Linked DNA regions of Homo sapiens: region 2 is linked to region 1. Evidence: fine-mapped expression QTL. A gene starts in region 1. The other region holds a variant in brackets. All regions are shown on one strand. Distances are from middle to middle. Region 1 holds the start of YBX3 (Y-box binding protein 3). Region 2 overlaps YBX3 (Y-box binding protein 3).

The links. PIP is the estimated chance that this variant, and not a neighbour inherited with it, causes the effect.
Region 2: its variant is fine-mapped to the expression of YBX3 in whole blood (INTERVAL, PIP above 0.99).

The regions. Positions count from the first base shown.
Region 1 is chr12:10,721,982-10,724,895 of GRCh38, reverse strand. YBX3 (Y-box binding protein 3) reads left to right here and starts at 1,573. Exons shown (of 10, transcript NM_003651.5): 1 at 1,573-2,046. The coding sequence starts at 1,785. LOC124902876 reads right to left here and starts at 1,844. Exons shown (of 2, transcript XM_047429946.1): 1 at 1,236-1,844. The coding sequence starts at 1,786. RefSeq lists silencers at 1,458-1,677, 1,698-1,797, 1,928-2,327.
Region 2 is chr12:10,696,364-10,699,277 of GRCh38, reverse strand. YBX3 (Y-box binding protein 3) reads left to right here. Exons shown (of 10, transcript NM_003651.5): 10 at 1-189. Among named protein-coding and RNA genes, the nearest start is that of STYK1, 24 kb to the right of the region's middle. The variant T/C (reference allele first, on the strand shown) is at 1,800.

The sequences.
Region 1 (2,914 bases):
GAATTAGACCAGCATTTTAAAAGCATCTACATTTATATAACATCACTGTATGCTCCATACTGAAGTCAAACTAAAATATGAATCTAACATTTAAGAGTTTGTAATTTTTTAAATATTGATGAATTACATAGAAAAGCTCAAAATTACATAATTTGCTATTTTTTCAAATAACTTATTTTCTTTGTGTTTTTTGTGGATGAAATAAGAAAGTAAGAATTCAGGAAAGTTTCATAATAATTGATAGCAAATGTGCAGATAAGTAATTGAGTTTGGAAGAATTTGGTCTGTTTTCATTTTGTAAACATTCACTATGTCCAAACTCTGTGCTACGTACTGTACTAACCAGTGGAGATACAAAGATGAATTACACTTGATAGTTACCCTACTGATGTTAAGGTAGACATCGACATTACAGACATATTCCTGGAAAAAAATTTGGTAAATTGTTTGAGGGAACAGGCAATAACTTAAAAAACAAACAAAACAAAGGAGCTTTAGGTGGACCGGACACTGGAGTGACACATGATAATCTCATCTACTTTTCATGTCACCTTTGAGAACCTCTCATAAAGCAGGAAACCGACTCTGGGACATTGAATCTCTGTCCCAAGTTAACCTGGTTAATAAAAAACAAAGCCAGAATTTATACCTAGTCTGTCTGAACCCTAGGGGCCAAATAGTCCTGTATTCCAGACAGTCTTTGGGTACAGATCCCAGACCCTCTGGCCCTGTGTTTACTACCATCCAGCCCATTCTCAAAGGGCATGTGGGCTCTTCAACTTGGGAATAATGTTTATTGGGTGATCTGTTTCTCTATACCTCTCATCCTCGAGGCTAAGAGGGCTCAGTTCCTTAAGCTTTCACCAGCTGGCAGAGGCAACTGGAGCAGAAGGTAGGAAGTGGATTTATTCAGCTTTTTTTGTGTGTGTTCCTTATTAAATATATATTGACAGCTCCTTATTTGTTGCGGTTAAATTGGTGTAAACTCTGAATTTACATTAAATCTGTGAGGTCAATTTCCTCATCTGCGTGTTACAGATGAAATTATCCGTATATTACCTTTCAGGAGTAAGTTGCCAAATAGTCTTAAGGTTTTATTATTCCAGGTCTTAACAGCTGTGCTACGAATAGCTGCTGGTGCTTGATACATGTTGAATGACTGACTAGATGCAAAGGATTTAAAAACAAGTGTTTGAGAGGGTAAAGCGCAGAGTAGTTTGGGTGCCCTATTTTACCTCTCCTTGTCAGCTGCGGGTGTCAAGACGGGTTGAGGGAGGAGAGCCAATGCACCCCGCTCCAACAAAGGGTCAGCAGCGCGGGCTCCTCGGAACGCTCCAGAAGACAACCCGGGCGCCCCGTTCACCCTGGCTTTCCTTGGTTCTGCAACGCGACCCGCGCGCTCGCGTCCCGGCGGATTGGAGCCATAGAAAGCGCACCGGGCGCCTTTAAATGCTAATGAGAGTCCAGGGCCCGACTCCCGAGCCAAGTTTCCCCACCCTCTCCCCTCGCCCGCCCTTCCCTCCCGGGCCGGTGCGCCGCCTAGAAAAACTTGTGCGGGGCCATTTTTGGGGCAGTAAGATCGAGCGAGGAGCCCAAGAGAGAGCGCGCAGCACGAAGCTCGAGCCGCCTCCGCCGCGCGACCCCACCTCGGCCGCCGCCGCCTGCGCCGCGAGATCCGCCCCGGCCTCCCCGAGAGCGAGCCCCGGCCGCCGCGACCACCAGCCGCGCTAACCGCCGACCAACCGCCACCGAGGCGCCTGAGCGAGAGCAGAGGAGGAGGAGGCATGAGTGAGGCGGGCGAGGCCACCACCACCACCACCACCACCCTCCCGCAGGCTCCGACGGAGGCGGCCGCCGCGGCTCCCCAGGACCCCGCGCCCAAGAGCCCGGTGGGCAGCGGTGCGCCCCAGGCCGCGGCCCCGGCGCCCGCCGCCCACGTCGCAGGAAACCCCGGTGGGGACGCGGCCCCCGCAGCCACGGGCACCGCGGCCGCCGCCTCTTTAGCCACCGCCGCCGGCAGCGAAGACGCGGAGAAAAAAGTTCTCGGTGAGTCAGGCCAGGGAGGGCAGGGGCTGCCGTAGTGGGGCGGGCCCAGCCGGCCGCGGAGCACGTGTGGGCAGCTCGCGCTACATCTCCCACCCGGGCTGGAGACGCTGACAGCACAGGGTCCCCAGGGATCTCCGGGTCCCCAGGGGTCTCCGGGTCCCCAGCGCTGGCCGCCTCCCTTGCCGGCGCTCCCAGGTGAGCGCGCTGCGCCCTGCGCTCCTGGCGGCCGTGTGCATCTCCCTTCTGGTTCCGGGCCAGAAAGTTTAGGTCTTAACTTCTGTCTCCCAGACGGGCACTGTTGCGGATTCGCGTGGTGGAAAATGCCTGCGTTTGGAGAAGAAAGGAGAGGCAGTCTGGGAGAGGGGACCTTGGGTAGGGATGGATGTAGGGGAAGGACCGACACGTGGGCCTGGCGCTTTGGGGTCCTTGCTTGGGATCTGGGAAAGGAGAGCATTTCCTTTGGGGAAGAGGAGGGCGCTAGAAGGAGACGGGGAGGGAAAGATAGAAAAGCTTCTTGCCAGGAAGGGTCAGGTGTCTGTCCCTGACGCCCTTCCCACATGGGCATGGGAAAGACGCCATGCTCCTGTTGGCCACATGCCAGCAAAGAGATGTTGCAATCGTCTCCGGGAAACTTGGGTCTTAGTCCCACGTCTTCCTCCCCCTCTCTGTGCCCACGGCTGCAAACAGCCATTCAGTGTCCACCAATGGCTACACGCTTCCCTCTTCCCGGACTGTGGGAACGCACGTGGTGTAGCAGCTGAAAAAACTTTGTCGGAAGTGGGGGTATGACGTTAGTTCAAAACATTGTTACCTTGGCACTTGTAACGTAGGAAGGGAAACAGGAAGATGAAATGTTGAGATTTGGGGG
Region 2 (2,914 bases), 26 kb after region 1:
CGTTTTTGTTCATTTTGGATGCTGGTGCTAAACCTCCAAGTGTCATGATTTAAAAAAAAAAAAAATTTATGTCCTTCTTATTTATTTCTAGGATGAGGGGAGGATAACATTTTTGCTTTCTTATGTGACTCTCTTTGAAAATGTGCAGTAAGAAATTCCTCAAAAATAAAATTTTTACCCTTCAGAGGACAGAATGTTTAATGGGAGTGTATTTTTGCCGACCTTAGCGTGTGTTTGTCTTCTCCACCACTTGATTTACTTGACTTGATTAATAGTAAATTCAAAGCCAAATGTAAAGTTAAGTTAATGCTGTTTCACAAATTTAGGCATATAAGCTTGAGATGATAAAAAATTGGATTCCTGTTGAAATGTACAGCTGGAAATTGACAAGTTCATGTCTGAGTTCAGTAGTAGGCATGAATTATTTGGTACTGTCTCTTTTTGAGTAATCTTCATTCAGTGAGGTGACGTGATGACCTTTAGATTAACGAAGGAGTTAATAGTTCTAACATCCTTCAACTTCCAGCCTGAGGTTTTTACCAGTAACTGCTGTGTTGTAGGTATACAAGGGAGCTCTTTACAACTACATTTCTCCCCCTCCCAGCCATGGTGCCCCTAAGTTGAGAAAAACTATCGCAGCTGTCAGTGCCGTATAGTTACTTTTCAGAACTGCTGCAGCAGTACATATCCAGTGTAGGTTTGTGCTAAACATTATTCTAGTGGCTAGGATGGAACAAACCAACAAAATACCATTGTTTCAATGACCAGGTACATACAGAAAATAAACAAGTATGGAATTTAATTTAGATGGCAATAAGTGCTGTTAAGAAACATAAAACATGGTAGGAGGACAGGGACTGGCATAATCATAGGGGATATGTTGATTTTAAATAGTGGGGAGGGTCTCCTATTTAAATGGAGTCCTAAGGTGAAGGGGCATTAAACATTTGAGTATCTGCAGGGAAGAGCATTGCAGGTGGAGGGAGCATTCTTGGCCTAATAAATGGCAAGCAGGTGAATGTGAACTGTTCAAGAACCTTGTATTATCTTGCAAGTTAAAAGGGTTGGTAAAAATTGGTAATAGGCCAAGGCAAAAAAAAAATCAACTATTTTATTCTATTAAAAAAGGCTCCCATCTTGGTTCCAGTTTCCTCCAGGCAACCAGTTAGCATATCTTAAAAATAGACCCATTTCACATATTTCATGTGTGTGAGTCTCTGTGTGTGTGTGTGTGTGTGTGTGTATGTGTGTGTGTGATTGGCCGACTAATGCAAATTTGAGAAGAGGAAATGAGCTTAAATTGTGCTTATGTTAACAACTTAAAAACAATCATTAGACATATCCATGTTTAAAATTCTATGGATAGTTCAACTATACTATTTAGCCAGTCTTCTTTTTCCTAACTTCCCCTTCTCTCTTCCTGCTCACTTTAAAGCTATTCTAGTATAGAATATTTCAAACATACTTTTTAAAATGTTTTTAAAATGTACGTATACTTTTTGGCACTGATTTTCTTTTTCACCTAATATTTTTCCTATAGAGTCCTCTCATCATTTGTACTGACTATATAACATTCCATTACATAGCTATCCATAATTGTACTAGCCTTCTATCATGGGATATTGAGGGTATCTTAATTGCCATTGCAAACATTTTGCTTGATATAATCCCAACATCCTTACTTCTAAATACTGTCATCTGTTTCAGGATGGTAGCTATTCTATTTCTGGGAAAAAATAAAATAAAATGGAATGATGAATGCAGAGTTGGGGAAAACACACTGGTTGTAGGTACAGAAA[T/C]AACACAAATTGGATGTGATGTGAGGATGGGCCAAAAGTATGTTATTTTACTGGTGAGGGACCTTGGATTGCTTTATCAAGAAATACAGGCTACCGGGGTGAGACCACAGCCAGAAATTAACTAGAAGGCTATCTGTCATACGGCAATCACAACTTAACTCTGTGGTTGTTCATATTTGATGGCACTGCACCTATCAGAAAATAGCACTATGCAAATCAGTATTTGCCTCCTACTATGTGTCAAGAGTGATGGGTGCTTTCAGATCACAAGTAAGTCAGCTGTAACTGTTATAAGGGCTCTTGTGTTTATTGCAAAGATGCAAGTTTTGAAAGCTTTTTGCTCTTAGTGGAGTGGATAAATGTGTTTATAAAGACATGTTTTGAGATTTTAAAGAAAAAATTTAGAGCTAAATTAGATTGAAGCTAGTTTCAGTTAAAAAATGGAAAAGAATCTCAAGATTGATTTTGTATATTATGGCATAAGCATTTTGTTTAATAAGAAAAAGTCTAGAAAGGATACAGGTGCTGATATAAATCTCTGGAAATGTGATCTTGTGCAGTAGCAGAAATAAGAATTCATCAGCTTTGTGATTTTCCCAAAATGCTTTGTGAAAGCATTTCATTTTAACTGATGAGCTAGCTCCAGAATCACCCAGGCTTTCAGAATGGGGATGGTAAGCTCTAATGAATGATCCACACTGGTCAAATAACACGGGGAGCTTAGTTTGCAGATCCCTCCCTATGCCTCTAGTTTGGACAGTATTCTAGTAAAAGGGGTATAGAATAGAGGCATCTGATAAAAGAGACTAGAAATCACCACTTTGTTATTGCCATAGTATTGTTCTTTTATGCATTGATCTCATTGTCAAATTCATGAAGGCTTGCACATAAGGGGTTCCAGGCAACGCCTGTGCCTGTCACATGGACTTGGCACCACTGGTGAAAACTCCCTCTTATCAGTTGAGAACAGAATTTCCCGAGTAATAAAAATTGTGGGAAGAAGTGTGTGTGTGTGTGTGTGTGTGTGTGTGTGTGTGTGTGTTGTTATTTTAAAAAGTTCCTAAGATGTTTTCCAGAATGGCTGTTAAGGGCCAAATTGTGTCCCCCTAAAACTC